Linked DNA regions of Homo sapiens: region 1 is linked to region 2. The links come from fine-mapping of genetic effects on gene expression. Tissue or cell type: minor salivary gland. Region 2 holds a variant in brackets; the other region holds the start of a gene. All regions are shown on one strand. Distances are between the middles of the regions.

What was found. PIP is the estimated chance that this variant, and not a neighbour inherited with it, causes the effect.
Region 1: SSTR5-AS1 starts here. The variant in region 2 is fine-mapped to the expression of SSTR5-AS1 in minor salivary gland (GTEx, PIP 0.99).

The regions. Positions count from the first base shown.
Region 1 is chr16:1,074,996-1,082,995 of GRCh38, forward strand. It overlaps SSTR5-AS1 (SSTR5 antisense RNA 1), which reads right to left and starts at 3,736. Exons shown (of 4, transcript NR_027242.1): 1 at 3,463-3,736; 2 at 2,629-2,717. It overlaps SSTR5 (somatostatin receptor 5), which reads left to right. Exons shown (of 2, transcript NM_001172560.3): 2 at 3,847-6,459. The coding sequence starts at 3,874. The coding sequence ends at 4,968. RefSeq lists enhancers at 3,490-4,154, 7,936-8,000.
Region 2 is chr16:712,957-720,956 of GRCh38, forward strand. It overlaps METRN (meteorin, glial cell differentiation regulator), which reads left to right and starts at 2,162. Exons shown (of 4, transcript NM_024042.4): 1 at 2,162-2,437; 2 at 2,628-3,028; 3 at 3,977-4,036; 4 at 4,115-6,699. The coding sequence starts at 2,334. The coding sequence ends at 4,431. RefSeq lists enhancers at 1,178-1,776, 2,375-2,972, 2,973-3,570, 3,571-4,168, 6,766-7,473 and 1 more and silencers at 1,921-2,230, 2,331-2,760, 2,861-2,920, 7,831-8,000. The variant A/G (reference allele first, on the strand shown) is at 3,323.

The DNA.
Region 1 (8,000 bases), 360 kb after region 2:
AGCAGATCCCTTCGTGGCCGAGGGCTCGGGATCAGAAAGCTCCTACTGCTGGCTCCCCCTCCAGTGAATCCCCCACCCACAAGGGACAGGGCCACCGGGACAATTCCCCGTGAGTGCGTAATTTTATGATTCAGAGGATACTGCTTCCAAATAACGGCTCTTGCAGAATTATGTTCCAAGAGTCAGGTACAGCAATAATGGTCTATTTGTGTCCTTTGCTGCTCTGAAGTCTAACTCCGGAGGTGGAGCACTGGGGGCCGCAGAGCCGGGGACCTGGCAGCCTGTGGAGCCCCTCGCTGGGCTCTGGGCATGGGAGTGGCCTTGGAGGAACCCTGAGGCTCCTCTGAAGCTAAGAAGCTACAAAGACAGGGAGGCTGAGGCAGGAGGATCACTTGAGCACAGGTCGAGGCTGCAGTGAGCTGTGATCACAGCACCACTTCGATCCAGCTCGGGCAACAGAGCAAGACCCCATCTCGAAAACAAAAAATCAAACAGGCATTTGGGAACCACACGTGCTGGGGACCCAGGGCCTGTGTTGGAGATGGACCGGAGCCCGACAGCCGCCCTCTCCCTGTCCCACCATCGGTGGCTCCTCTGTCCCCTCCACCTGGCCTCCTTGCTACGGAGGAATGGGCCGAAAGTGCCTCCCCAGGGAGGGTGCAGCTCAGAGGCCTCTGCACCTGGGCCGCCATCCCACCCACCTGGACTCCCACGCAGCCCGCGGGCTGTCTCCAGACCACTGTCCTTCCGGAATGCATGCTCCACAGGCAGCCAGAGGGAGCCGCAAACATGGCGTGTTGGATTTCCATGCTGGTCCCTGGGGAGCGGAGAGCCACAGGCCTCTTCCCCTCCCTCTCCCTCTCCCTCCCTCCCTCTCTCCCCCTACCCTGTCTCTCTCTCTCCCCCCCCACTCTCTCTCCCTCCCTCTCTCCCCCCACCCTGTCTTTCTCTCTCCCTCCCCACCTCCCCCTCTCTCTCCCTCCCCCTCCTCCCCCTCCCTCTCCCCCCACCTTTTCTCTCTCCCTCCCCACCTCCCCCTCCCTCTCCCTCCCCCCTCACCTCCCCTCCCTTTCCCTCCCTCTCTCCCTCTCTCCTCCCCTCCCCCTCCCTCTCCCTCCCTCTCTCCCTCTCTCCTCCCCGCCTCCCCATCCCTCTCCCTCTCCCTCCTCTCTCTCTCCCCCTACCCTGTTTTCTCTCTCCCTCCCCGCCTCCCCCTCCCTCTCCCCCATACCCTATCTTTCTCTCTCCCTCCCTGCCACCCCCTCCCTCTCCCTCTCCCTCTCCCTCTCCCTCTCCCTCCCTCTCTCCCCACACCCTGTCTTTCTTTCTCCCTCCCCACCTCCCCTCTTCTCCCACCCCGGGGTCTGCGTGGAGGCCACTGCTCCGTCCCTGCTGAGGATTCTGCTGCACTCTGGCTCCTGCCTGTGGGAATCCGTCCTGTCTCTCTGGCTGGTGTCTCTCTGGCTGGCGTCCCTGCCCAGATGCCGCAGCTTGATGGGGATGCTCTTTCATTCCTTTATGCTGCTTGGGACAGGTGCGCTCCCAGAAGGGATCCTGTCGCCAGTTCTGGGGGAGCCCAGCCATGCTCTCCCCCTGCCCACCCCACAGAGCCCTCTCTGGACCTTGTGCCAGCACCCTGCTCCAGTGAATCTTTCAACCCTCTTCCCATTCACCAATTCTCTCTTCAGTGCTGTCCACACTGGAGTTGGTTCTGACCACTTTTGTAGTGTTTTTTTCCACTTAAATGATTGTATTTTTTACATCCAGGATTTGTAATTTTTAAAAATAGATGCCTGTTCATTTTACTCCTTAGACAGAAGCCAAATGTATTTCCTAACATTTTATCCATGCTGTCTCTGTGGATCCTGCACATATTTAAACATAGCCTAAGCGTACCTGTTTGCTCGTTATTTTTATCTCCCTGAGATGGATCCATGGGTCCACTGGCCCTGTTGATTTTCTGAGTCGTATTTCTTAGTGTGTTTGGGCCATGCGAGCTTGGGGATGTTGATTTCTAGGTTTGTTGGGGACAGAGGGCTTTCTCTTTGTGCTGTCAGCCTTGTGTTCTGGGCTCCCCCGTCCCCAGCTCTCCTTTCCTTGTCTACCAGATTTCAGTGGCCTTGGCCCAGCCCCACAGCCCCCAGCCAGGACTGTGGCCTTTCCTGGCAGCTGCTGGGGTCGTCCTGTGCTCTGAGGTGCCTCCAGGGTCAGGGCCGGTCAGCTGAGCAGCCCCAGGGCTCCAGACGGCACATGCTGAGGTCACCACAGCCGGCTCCACCCCTGCTCAGGCCGAGGTCCCCCAGGGAGGGGCTTGTCCCTGGTCTGGATCCTAGGGGACACTTTGATTCTCTGCTGGCCACCCCCAGAGTCACACAGCTCCAGGGTCAACCCAAACATCCGGACTTCCTCCGCCCCACTCGTCAGGGGAGGCATTGATCTTCTTTTTGAGACAGGGTCTTGCTCAGTCACCCAGGCTGGCGTGCAGTGGTGTAATCACAGCTCACTGCAGCCTCAACCTCCTGGGCTCAAATGATCCTCCTGACTCAGCCTCCTCAGTGGCTGGGACTACAGGCGCCCGCCACCACACTTGGCTAATTTTTGTATTTTTTGTAGAGACGGGGGTCTCACCATGTTGCCCAGGCTGGTCTTGAACTCCTGTCCTCAGGTGATCCACCCGCCTCGGCCTCCCACAGTGCTGGGATGACAGGCTTGAGCCACTGCACCCAGCCGGAGTATCATTTTTATGAATGATTTCAAACATGCAGAAAAATACAAAAACAATATACGAGGTACACACGTGCCCATGGCCTTGGACCCACAGACGTCACCATTCCCAGCCCACCCTTCTCCATGGACACCCCTCCCTCCCCTCCCCCAAGTCTCCCCTGTTCTCTCTCTGGGCCACAGTGGGGGGTTCCAGGGCCTGGGAGGGGGCTCAAAGCTCCGATGGGACTGGGCAGTGTCAGGTGGCTGCAGCCCCCATACGCTATGCCTCTGACCCGCCCACACCCCCCACCGCGGCTTCTCCTCCGGGCTGCAGGGTGTGCAGCCCCCGCCCGCAGTCCCCCCTCCTTCGCCCTGTGTGACTCCTGGGGCTCCGTGTGACCACTCTGTGTGGTTTGTGTGTTTGCTTCTCTGCAGCCGCCCCGTGGGGAGGGTGGTGTCTCTCTGGCCCTGTGCTGTGCCCCCGCCTGGGTTTACAGATGTCTGTCATTGCTGTGGGGGTGACGGTCCCTGCGCTGGCCTGGAGAGAGGTTCGGGGCCAACGGGCAGCGGGCACCCCGGTGAAAGTCCCTCGAGGCTGCGGTGGCGACACCACGTCCAGCCACTTCTCAGGTCGTCCTAGCCAGGTGCCATTCATCCCAGGCGGACAGGGGGCCGACCACCGGCCCCATCTCTCTCCACTGCCACCTCTCCCTGTGTGTCCCGGGAGGGGCCGCCCGCTGGGCCTCGGCTCCTTACCTGGTAGACGAGGGCAGCAGCACTGCAGGGCAGGCTCTGAGGGGCTTCAGGGAGACGCAGGTGCTGGCCTCAGACTCCAGGATGCTGCGGCCAGGCCAGGCGCCATCTGGGTGCAGGGGCGGCCACAGGGCAGCTGTCGCCATATCGACAGCAGCCGTCCGTCTGGGCTCCCGGGGCCACCTGCCCGCCGCTCCTTCCTCTCCTGGCTTATTTTCCAAACAATTTGCTTAACGTGATTCCCGGCCAAGCTAAACATGACTAATCGTGTTTACCCGGTGATCCCGCGCCTCCTGGCAGGCGGGGCTGGGGCCCAGGAGGAAGGAATGCCTGCATGTGCTGGTTCAGGGACTCACCACCCTGGCGTCCTCCCTTCTTCTCTTGCAGAGCCTGACGCACCCCAGGGCTGCCGCCATGGAGCCCCTGTTCCCAGCCTCCACGCCCAGCTGGAACGCCTCCTCCCCGGGGGCTGCCTCTGGAGGCGGTGACAACAGGACGCTGGTGGGGCCGGCGCCCTCGGCAGGGGCCCGGGCGGTGCTGGTGCCCGTGCTGTACCTGCTGGTGTGTGCGGCCGGGCTGGGCGGGAACACGCTGGTCATCTACGTGGTGCTGCGCTTCGCCAAGATGAAGACCGTCACCAACATCTACATTCTCAACCTGGCAGTGGCCGACGTCCTGTACATGCTGGGGCTGCCTTTCCTGGCCACGCAGAACGCCGCGTCCTTCTGGCCCTTCGGCCCCGTCCTGTGCCGCCTGGTCATGACGCTGGACGGCGTCAACCAGTTCACCAGTGTCTTCTGCCTGACAGTCATGAGCGTGGACCGCTACCTGGCAGTGGTGCACCCGCTGAGCTCGGCCCGCTGGCGCCGCCCGCGTGTGGCCAAGCTGGCGAGCGCCGCGGCCTGGGTCCTGTCTCTGTGCATGTCGCTGCCGCTCCTGGTGTTCGCGGACGTGCAGGAGGGCGGTACCTGCAACGCCAGCTGGCCGGAGCCCGTGGGGCTGTGGGGCGCCGTCTTCATCATCTACACGGCCGTGCTGGGCTTCTTCGCGCCGCTGCTGGTCATCTGCCTGTGCTACCTGCTCATCGTGGTGAAGGTGAGGGCGGCGGGCGTGCGCGTGGGCTGCGTGCGGCGGCGCTCGGAGCGGAAGGTGACGCGCATGGTGTTGGTGGTGGTGCTGGTGTTTGCGGGATGTTGGCTGCCCTTCTTCACCGTCAACATCGTCAACCTGGCCGTGGCGCTGCCCCAGGAGCCCGCCTCCGCCGGCCTCTACTTCTTCGTGGTCATCCTCTCCTACGCCAACAGCTGTGCCAACCCCGTCCTCTACGGCTTCCTCTCTGACAACTTCCGCCAGAGCTTCCAGAAGGTTCTGTGCCTCCGCAAGGGCTCTGGTGCCAAGGACGCTGACGCCACGGAGCCGCGTCCAGACAGGATCCGGCAGCAGCAGGAGGCCACGCCACCCGCGCACCGCGCCGCAGCCAACGGGCTTATGCAGACCAGCAAGCTGTGAGAGTGCAGGCGGGGGGTGGGCGGCCCCGTGTCACCCCCAGGAGCGGAGGTTGCACTGCGGTGACCCCCACCCATGACCTGCCAGTCAGGATGCTCCCCGGCGGTGGTGTGAGGACAGAGCTGGCTGAAGCCAGGCTGGGGTAGACACAGGGCAGTAGGTTCCCCACCGTGACCGACCATCCCCTCTAACCGTCTGCCACACAGCGGGGGCTCCCGGGAGGTAGGGGAGGTGGCCAGACCGGTGGGGGGCTCCGCCATGCCGTGCAAGTGCTCAGGGCCGCCTCACCCTCCATCTGGCCCCAGCCCATGCCGGCCTTCCCTCTGGGGAGCGACTTTTCCAGAAGGCCGGCCAGGCGAGAGGGTCTTCCTGACGGCGGAGCTGACCTGCCCGGCCCACCAGCTGCATGTCAGCTCCGAGCCACCGGGTCCCCGTCCAAGGCTGCTCTGCTAAGTTAAAGACACCCGAAAGCGCTTGACTCAGGTCCCCGGAGTCCCTGGCCAGGGCCCCAGCCCCTCGCTTGCCCTGCACTGTGTGGACTCTGGGGATGCAGGTGTAAGGGGAGTGTGGCTGGGCAGCCCCTGGTCAGCCAGGGTCACGCCTGTCCTGGGGGCCCCACCCTGCTGCCCGACACCCCCCATGGGAGGCTGCGGGCGGCAGTTGCTGTCTCAGAGAGGGGAGTGTGGGGGCTTGGGCGCTGGCCTAGCCAGGGGCGAGGTGGGGAGGCGGCTGGTGCAGAGGAGAGCTGGGGGCTGAGGTTGGGGTGAAGGCTGCAGCCCTCCAGGCTGCTGGGGGTGCAGATGGCTGTGCCGTGCTGAGATTGGCTCTGTCTGGAGGGGTCCAGTGTGGGGTGCCTGAGGGCACTAGGGAGAGGTGCTCCTGCTGCAGGAGGACCTGAGGGTCAGGGCTTGGAGAGGACAGGGAACCTGCGGCCGTCTCTTCTGCTTTGGGGCAGGGGCTCTGGCCCGGGAGAGGGAACGGGGACAGGAGCAGAGGACGGTCATCCAGGCGCAGCGGGGAGCTGCTCCCCAGGCCACAGCAGACAGCACTGCTGAGAGGCAGCGGCCGCGCGGGTGACGCAAATGGCAGGCCCTGGGAATCCCGCCGCCTCCCACCTAGAATTGTCCTACCTCCCCCACCCCAAACACCAGCTTTTCCTGGCGCCCCAGGCCCAGAACGTGGGCCCAGAGAGCCTTGCTGGGGTCTCTGGGGCACCTTGGCCTTGCTCTGAGGCTGGAAGGAGAAGGACCAGGGTGCGGCATCACTCGGCCTCAGGGACCCCTCTGCCCTGCCCAGCACTGGCCCCGACCCGTGCTCCCGCCGTCTGCCCAGAGCAGGACCTCAACCTCCTGGAGGGCACAGGGAGCGGCTGAGTGGGCACAAATCCTGGCAGGAGAAAGGCCCAGGCTGAGGCCAGGCCTGGGAAACATCCAAGCAGTGAGGACACGCGTGTTTGACAACTGCTCCCCTGAATAAATGCGAGGATAAATGTTTGATTCTTTCCCCGAGCAAATATTGTCCCTGGAGCCGAGTGCAGCCAGCGCAGAGTGAGCGGAGCCTGGGCTCCCCCGAGGCCCGACACAGGGCCCGCCCCCGGCCCCAGCCCCGCTGAGCCAGACAAGGCCGGGACGGGGGCGGCCAAATGCCCAGCAGGAAGCGGGAGGCGTGGAATTCGTGAACAGGGTGAAAAATGATGGAAGCTGCCTGGGGTCTTAGGCTGGAGCTGCCCCTCACAGCTTCTTGACAGCTCTGGGCGGGGCAGGGTGGGCTTCTGCAGGGGGTCCACAAATCTCTGCCTCTTGAGTCACCAAAGAGGGGTGCATCCAGGGTGCACTGGGGGAAACCGAGGCCCGTTCACACCGCAGCACCCCCCTCGACCTGCCTCCCCAGGGATTTGGGTGCCATGTTCACCCTCTCAGAAGGCTTTGGGGACCGAGCAGATGGCTCGGAAATCCCTGCCAAGATCAATTTCTCCAATTGATTTGACACCGGGCGCTCTCCCTGCAGGGCCGGCAGCCACGAGGGGCAGACAGAGGCGCCAGTGCCCTCACTCTCGGGTGAAGACGCCCTTGACCCCCAGCCCATTCGACCCGGCCACAAGCCTCGGGCCACCCTGCTCCCCACCTTGTCCAGCCTGAAGCCCCCAGGACCCCGGTCCCTGTCCGTCCCAGGCCCCAGCCTCATGGCCCTGCCGAGCTCCCCAGTCTGGTCCCGGCCACCCACAGCCCACATCTGTGCCTTTGGTCATAGCCTCGTCCCCATCAGGTGCACACCCTCCCCACAAACCAGACCTGCCGGCACAGCCTCTTCTTCCCTTGACCCCCAGGACGCTGTCACGCTGACCTTCTGGGGACGGTGGGCTCATGACGGCAGCCCCACAGCTGGGCCTAGGACTTACTGCCCTTGACCCCCTGGGCTGGCTGAGCCCTGAACACGTGTCTCCATCGGACAAACACACCTGCAGGGCACCAGCATGGGGCTGGGTCGTGGGATCAAGGTTGAACCGGAAGAGCATTCCAGGCAGAGGGAACAGCCTATGGGAGGGCTCAGAGGCAAAGGGGCACAGGGGGGTTAGCTGTGGGGGTCAATTCAGAGAGAGGAGCAGATCCAGGCCCCTCAAGTTCTGCCCCCATGCTGCCCCAGGGAAGGACGAAGCTGCGCTCACTCCAGCTTGAGAGAGGAGACTGGACGAGAGGCGGGAAGAGGCACACACAGGGAGTGTGCGGAAGCTGTGAGTCATCCAGAACACGCAGCGGCCTGGCCCGGGGCCGGGGCCCCAGGGGTGCTCACGAGGCAGGGGCAGCCCCTGTCCAGGCCTGGAGAAGGGGGCAGTGGCACCTGGCTGGTTCCTGCTTGGAGCACGTGGGAGGACAAGGCCCCGGGGTCTGATGGCCTCAGTGGGCTGAGAGGGCTGAAGATGTCTGGGGAGGTCCCAGGCAGCCCATGGACCAGGCTGGGCAGAGCCACGGGGAAGAGGACAAGGCCTGGATGCCCCCAGGGCACCAGCATGAAAGGCCGGGTGGGGTCAGGTGAGT
Region 2 (8,000 bases):
GCCTCCAGGCTCATCCAGGCTGTAGCGGGTGTCAAGGGACCAGAACTTCATTCCTTTTTATGGCTTAATAATGGACCCACCGCCAGGGGGTGCCGTGGCTCATGCCTGTAATCCCAACACTTTGGGAGGCTGAGGTGGGCGGATCACCTGAGGTCGGGAGTTCAAGACCAGCCTGACCAGCATGGAGAAACCTCGTCTCTACTAAAAATACAAAATTAGCCGGCATGATGGCACATGCCTGTAATCCCAGCTGCTCGGGAGGCTGACGCAGGAGAATCGCTTGAACCCAGGAGGTGGAGGTTGCAGTGAGCCAAGATCGCGCCATTGCACTCCAGACTGGGCAAAGAGCGAAACTCCATCTCAAAAAAAAAAAAAAAAAAAAAAAAAAAAAAGAGGCCGGGCGCGGTGGCTCACATCTGTAATCCCAGCACTTTGGGAGGCCAAGGCGGGCAGATCACGAGGTCAGGAGATCGAGACCATCCTGGCTAACACGGTGAAACACCCTCTCTACTAAAAAAAGAAAAAATACAAAAATTTAGCCGGGTGTGGTGGCGGGCGCCTGTAGTCTCAGCTGCTCGGGAGGCTGAGGCAGGAGAATGGCATGAACCCAGGAGGCAGAGGTTGCAGTGAGCCGAGATCGAGCCACTGCACTCCAGCCTGGGCGACAGAACGAGATTCCGTCTCAAAAAAAAAAAAAAAAATGGACCCACTGCACTTGCTTGTCCACTCAGCTGCAGACAGGCCTTTGGGAGTCTTCCACCTTTTGGGGATTGTGATGGCTACTTCTGACCTGCACCTCGCCCAGAGCAAGGGGCTGGCCGAGCCCAGTAGGCGCCTTGTTCCTGTTTGGCCTGGGAGGGCCCTGGGGTTGAGGGAGGGCCTGGTCAGTGGGATCCAGCCTCCCACTGCCACTGAGCCATCTGGCCTCATCTGTCCGACTGCCACTGGTGAACTCATCTGTCCACCATGAGTTTCGAGCGCCGGGTGGCAGGAGGTTTGGGGGCAGGGGACGGAATGTTCACATCTTCAGGCTGCACAGTCTATGCTGGTCCTTGCAGTCCCCGGCTAAAGCTTCTGTCGTCCGTAAGGGGTTCAGTATGTAGTGGGACCCCTTTGCTTGTGCCTTAGGCCTTCTGTGATCTGACCTGTCGTCCCCACCCACCACCCATGCCCTGGGGTTTCACTGGGCTGCCAAGAGCTCCTTCCTCAGGCCCTTGACCCAGGCTGTCTGCTCTCCCCCATTCTCTTCCTGTCCACCTGGCCAGCCACTGCCCACTTCCTCCCATCAGGCCAACTCAGCAGTCCCGGATGCTGGGAATCCCACACTGCTCCAGCCTGAGGCTACAGTGTGTTTGCGAATCGCCTGTTTCTGCTTGTTTCATCTTGGTGGGGGCTGCTCCTGTGGCCCAGGGGTGTCCTCCCAGCTCCTGTGTCTCCACGTGCTGCAGGCCTGCAGGGGTGCCCGTGGCTGCTCCATTCACGCCCCTCCAGGAGCCCCGTCTGGCCCGGGGTCGGTCATCCGGCAACTATGGGGTGCCGCTAGGTCTGAGGAAAGGGGCCTAAGCCTGCGGGCTGCGCGCTCTTCAGCAGGACCCCCTCCTGCAGACGGCCTTACCAAAACCCGAGGCCTGGCCCCGCTCCAAGGCGCAGCCCCCAGGCCAGGCCTTCCCCGCCTCTGGAGTCATGACCCCTCTCCTCTGGGGCTCCACCGGCCTCTGGTCAGCAGGACCGGACCTGGTTGGGAGGGATGTGGCCAACAGGCCCAGGTCCCAGTGTTAGGAAGGAGCAGGCCCGGCCGCCCGCGAGGCGGAACCACCAGGTGGGCCACCTTCCCTACCGCCACCCCGAGGTTCCAGTGGACATCAAAACCTCGGCTCCATCAGAGGCTCCAGGACTCCGATCGGGACAGCGCGGGGGGCGAGGCCAGGGTGAGGGCGCGGCGAAGGAGAGACGCACAGCGCGGGGCGGGCAAGGAGCCTCCCTTCCGCGCCAAGGCCCCCCCCAACCCTCGAGGCGCTTGGACCGTGGGATAGTCCTCCGGCGGCGCCCGAGCTCCGGCCCCGCCCCCGCTCCGCCCCGCGCCTGCTATTGGCGGAAAGTTCCGGGCCGCGCCGCGACTGGCCGACACGCCGCAGGCCCCGCCCCCTTCCCGACCCGCTCCAAGGCGGCCCCGGCGCTGGGGCTGCGCGGCAGGCGGAGCGGCCGCGGGCTTGGGGGCTTCGCCGGGGCCGGGCGGCCGGCGCCCCCGGCTGCTCCCGCCGCCGCCCGGACCCGCGCCCCGCCGGGGCAGCGGTGGTGAGAGCCCCGACTCCCCGGACGCCGCCCGCCGTGCCATGGGGTTCCCGGCCGCGGCGCTGCTCTGCGCGCTGTGCTGCGGCCTCCTGGCCCCGGCTGCCCGCGCCGGCTACTCCGAGGAGCGCTGCAGCTGGAGGGGCAGGTACGGTCCGGGGGGCTGTCCCCGCACTTAGGACGGGGTGCGCTGCGGCTAGGACCCCCCAGGCGCCCCTCGGAGCGCGCAGAGCGCTGGGCCGGTTTCCCCATCCGCGAGGCGGCCTCGGGAGGGAGCGGGGGCTGCGCCGGGCGGGGACCCGCCCCCGTCTCAGCGCCCCGTCCCGTCCTGTCCCCAGCGGCCTCACCCAGGAGCCCGGCAGCGTGGGGCAGCTGGCCCTGGCCTGTGCGGAGGGCGCGGTTGAGTGGCTGTACCCGGCTGGGGCGCTGCGCCTGACCCTGGGCGGCCCCGATCCCAGAGCGCGGCCCGGCATCGCCTGTCTGCGGCCGGTGCGGCCCTTCGCGGGCGCCCAGGTCTTCGCGGAGCGCGCAGGGGGCGCCCTGGAGCTGCTGCTGGCCGAGGGCCCGGGCCCGGCAGGGGGCCGCTGCGTGCGCTGGGGTCCCCGCGAGCGCCGGGCCCTCTTCCTGCAGGCCACGCCGCACCAGGACATCAGCCGCCGCGTGGCCGCCTTCCGCTTTGAGCTGCGCGAGGACGGGCGCCCCGAGCTGCCCCCGCAGGCCCACGGTCTCGGCGTAGACGGTGAGTGGCGGTCTGGTTGGGACAGGGTGGGAGTCCCGAAGTCTTACCCTGCCTGGGCTTGGCGGGAATGTGCCTTGTCGGCCCCACTGCAGAAGGAAAAAGTGAGCTACAAGGGTTGGATGGGCTTGTCAGGCCACACAGCCTGGGACTGCTGGGGAGGGATGGCCTCCCCGCCCTCCCTTCCCGATTCATCTCTGGAAAGAGCTGGCAGGGGCAGAGTGGAGGGAAGGGGAGGCCGGGCCCAGCAATCCTGGGCCTCTGGTCCCTGAACGGTTGGGGGAAGAGATGGTGGGG[A/G]CAGAATCGAAGCCTCCGGCCAAAGCTGTCCGGGGCTCCCTGGCCCAGCGGTGACCTCTCTCCCCTCCCCCAGCCCAACCAACAAAAGTCCAGTGTGCAGCCCGGTCACCATGGAGACGCCGCTCGCCTCCCTGCAGGGCACCAGGCCCAGCTCTTGCTTGGCTCTCCTGGAGCTTGGCGCCTGACCCTGAAAGGGATGGGCTCTCGCTATTCTGCCCCCTGGCCCTGGGCCAGGGACCCCAGACCACCCTTCCTCTGCCCCCACTTCCTATCACCCTAGCTGGGCTGCTGCTCTTCAGACCTCAGATCCGGGAAACTAGAGGGGTCCCAGATGCTGGGGTGCATATGTCAGATGGGAGTGCAGGAGGGCGGCCCAGGACAGCTGATCGCTAGGCATGGCCCCCAGGCCCACGTCTGTGTGCATTCCTGCCTTGGAGGTACGCGCCTGCAAGTGTGTTTCCTGAGTACAGGTGTCGCCGAGGGCGTGCACATCTGCTGTGTAGCTCTCTGGGACCCCCAGGTGCCATCAGGCCCTGAGCGTGGGCTCTGCTCATTTGCCTGCTGCCTCCTGCCGCTTGTGCGGACAAGGGACGGGGCCTGGGGTGATGCCGGGAGAGGGCAGGGCCTCTCCTCACCACCCCCTCTGCATGCCAGGTGCCTGCAGGCCCTGCAGCGACGCTGAGCTGCTCCTGGCCGCATGCACCAGCGACTTCGGTGAGTGTCCCCGCCATGGGGGGAGCCTGGAGCCTGCCTTCCCCTGAATGCCTACCGCAGCCACATGCCTCCCCACAGTAATTCACGGGATCATCCATGGGGTCACCCATGACGTGGAGCTGCAGGAGTCTGTCATCACTGTGGTGGCCGCCCGTGTCCTCCGCCAGACACCGCCGCTGTTCCAGGCGGGGCGATCCGGGGACCAGGGGCTGACCTCCATTCGTACCCCACTGCGCTGTGGCGTCCACCCGGGCCCAGGCACCTTCCTCTTCATGGGCTGGAGCCGCTTTGGGGAGGCCCGGCTGGGCTGTGCCCCACGATTCCAGGAGTTCCGCCGTGCCTACGAGGCTGCCCGTGCTGCCCACCTCCACCCCTGCGAGGTGGCGCTGCACTGAGGGGCTGGGTGCTGGGGAGGGGCTGGTAGGAGGGAGGGTGGGCCCACTGCTTTGGAGGTGATGGGACTATCAATAAGAACTCTGTTCACGCAAGCTGCTGTGGACCTGGTCTCCTGTGTCCAGCCCAGCCTTGGGCCTGCCTCGCAGCTGTGAGGATGGCTCCAATTCCTGCCTCCTGGCGGGAGACTGAGGCTCAGGGGAATGGTATCTTGTTCAAGACCATTTGGCAACTGAGAGGGAGAGCAGATGTCAGGAGGAGCTACACCCACATTCCGGGGAGGGGCCGCTGCTGGGTGGGGGGCACGTGGGGACCTGCACTCATGCAAGCTTCTGCTCTGCTGCACCCACCAGCCCCGTCCTTGCCCGCACCCTTGCCTGCTTCCCTGGCTGGCTCCCACTTGCCTCCCGTGCCAGGTGCTTCTGGGGCTCAGCAGGAGAGGAAAGGGGCAGAGGGGCATAGGGTCCCTCGGGTACGGTGGGGGCAGGCGGGCGCACAGCGCTCCGGCTCTGAGCCAGGCCTGTGAGGGAAGGGGCTGCAGGCTGGCAGGGTGCCGACTTCCCCCATGGCTGCTGTGAGCCCGCAGAGTCATCCTTGGCCCCGTCCCGCCCTTGGGGAAGAATGGGCCCCTCTGTCCTCAGGCCCCTTCGACGTGCTGAGCATCCAGACGTGGCGAGGAGCCCGAAGGGTGTGGGGTCCCCTCTGCAGGGTCCTGCTTGTTGCCTGTTTCCGGCGGGCGGGGTGCACAATGGGGTCTCTAAGGACCGTTTCCCGCCACTGGCCCCATTGTCACTGTCTCCGCCTTCCTCCTCGGCCTTTCAGCCGCATAAAGGGCCAGTGAGGTTTGGGACAGCCACAGCCCAAGGCTCCGAGGCTAAAAGCCCCTGGGTGGGGGTGTTCCAGGACACCTGGCCCTGTGTGAGCTGCCTCCTCTCACCCCAACCCCTCGGATCCTGGGAAAGAGACAGCCATGGCTCAAGGGCCAGGGACCCCTGGGCTGAGCCCCAGAAATGGCTTTCCATTCTCGCCTGGGCCGGGGTGGGGGTGGAGGCCAGAGGCCCTGCCCAGGCAGATGAAGCCCCCAGCTTTCAAGGGGGAAACTGAGGCTGTGTGAGGGACACAGCTGTGCAGGGCCCACAAACACGGTCCTTTCTCTAGGTTAGCGGATGCAGATGCCTGATGAGTGCCATGCCCTCTGTGGACACCTGGGGAGGGGGGTCACCTCCAGCGCCGCCCTGGGACTTCCACTGCACGTGCAAGAGACTTACCCTTTCACACAGATCACCTGCCTGCCGCAGGGCTGATGAGGATGGGTGAGGAGCGCAGCCACTGGGTGTCATGCACTGTGGGGGTTCTCCCACCTTCTGCCCCTCCTCAGGTTCCTTGCTGCTTCTCTCCTCTCCCAACTGTGGCACGCTGAGGGCTCAGGCACAGGACCGCTCCTCTGGGGCAGCCTCCAATAACCCTTGGACAACCTCCACTTTTTCATCTTCAGCCCTGACCACTCCCTGGGGCCCATAGCCTTACATCCATCTGCCCCCAGCCCAAACACTTCTGCAAACACTAGAAAAGGAGGTAGCCCGTGTGCCCTCCTGCACCGCCTCCTCCACTCCTGTCTTGGAGAGGCTTTCCCGTGGGCCGAGCAACCCCCTTACCTTTGGCACTTGCCCTGATTCTCTGGCCAGCTTCCTACAACCTCTCCTTTTCAGCCACACCCAAGTCCACCTGTTCACAAACACCCTGGGCTGGGCCCTGGCCGAACCCTGGCTTCTACCTACCTGTCTCAGGAAGTGCCTGAGCCTTGCACCTACAGACCCTCCCAGAGAAAGCCCTGGCTTTGCAACCAGCTGTCTTCTCATGAGACACAGGGCCACAGGAGCACCACGGTGCCCAAATGGGTCTTGGAGCATTAGACCAGGGGCTTCATGCCTGCCCTGGGGACAGGTGGCCAAAGTGGCATGGGAGATAGGGAGACAGTGTGGGTGAGCAGGTGGGCAGGAGCTACAGGAGCCTGGGGCCTGTGGATCACAGACACCGCCAGGCAAGTGCCAGTTCACACAGGTACAGGTGGCTGCAGAGTGCCCAAAGGCCAAGCAGCAGAGTGCCTGGTGTGGACGGGAGAGGAGTGGGGAGGTTGGGCGCAGTGGCTCACGCCTGTAATCCCAACACTTTGGGAGGCCCAGGCAAGCAGATCATGAGGTCAGGAGATGGAGACCATCCTGGCCAACATGGTGAAACCGTCTCTAATAAAACACAAAAAATTAGCCAGACATGGTGGCATGCATCTGTAATCCCAGCTACTCAAAAGGCTGAGGCAGAGGAATCACTTGAACCTGGAAGGCAGAGGTTGCAGTGAGCCAAGACTGCGCCACTGCACTCCAACCTGGGCGAAAGAGCGAGACTCAAGTCTCAAAAAAAAAAAAAAAAAAAAAAAAAAAAAAAAAAGAAGAGTGGAGAGTGCACGCTAGAGTCCAATTAGGTGCATTCATCCAGTAAGCCTCCTAGGTAACTGCTCTAGGTGCAGGGAATAATGCAGGCAGCAGGACAGGAATGGGCGCTGTCAGCTCCCCCTAGAGCTCAGTGTACATACACCCTTCCTTTCCTGGGAGGGCCGTTCCAGGCCCCCAGGAGACAGGACACGCTGAGCTGGGTGGGGCTGGGGCCAACGTGGGCAGGCCTGTGAGACTCTGCACTTGGGAGCTGGGGGCTGTGGTCTGCGGCATACCCATGTCTGGAAGCAGCCTCTGTCCCTGCAGGGGCTCTAGACCCCAGCCACGGATGGCTAAGGAGGAGCTAGGCCAGGGCACGCATAGACAACCCCCGACATTCACGGGTGTTCAGCCCTACCCTGGGTGTGGAGGTCGTGGCCCAGCTGCCTGACCCAGAGCTCGGCTCTTCCACTTGCGCTTCCCACCCCCAGCTTCACAAGGTCACCTCCAGGAACTCAGTCTTTTTGTGTGTTGTTTTCTGGAGAAGGAAGGTGATCTCCCCACTCCCGGGGCTGTCTGCCTTCCCTGTAGCTGGCAGGTGCCAGAGGCCCCCGCCTGTGACATCCGGCTTTCCTCCCACCACACTCGCCTGAGAGCCAGCATCTGTCTTCTTGGGCCTGCTCAAGCTCTCCTCCGTGTCAGCCCCTCCTCCATGCCCTTCTCCCTCAGACCCCACCCCCCATCCCTTCACCGCCCACTGGGGCTCATCGCTCAGGCTGTAGGAGGGAAATGGAAGGATGTCCTCCCGGGCTCTGGCTGGCGCTGGGTGTCCGAGTCAGCGGAGCGCCCCCAGCAGTCTCCCCGAGGCAGAGTCATGGGGGTGCTGGCGCCTGGACGCTGTCTCATCCCGGGGAGCCGCTTTCCCACCGGCTCCCTGGGCTCCAGCCGCCCCACGCGAGCCCCCGGCTGGTTCTGGGGCCAGGACCGCCCCTCTCCAAGGCAGACTTCCCTTCATTCCACGACAAAGACGCGCAGCCCCGTTTCCCTGGGGCTCTAGCCCGTGAGATCGCCGGGTGTATCCCGACTCCCGCCGGCACGTGCGCTCCCCCAGGGCAGGGCCTGCCTGTCCCCTTCCGCGGGTC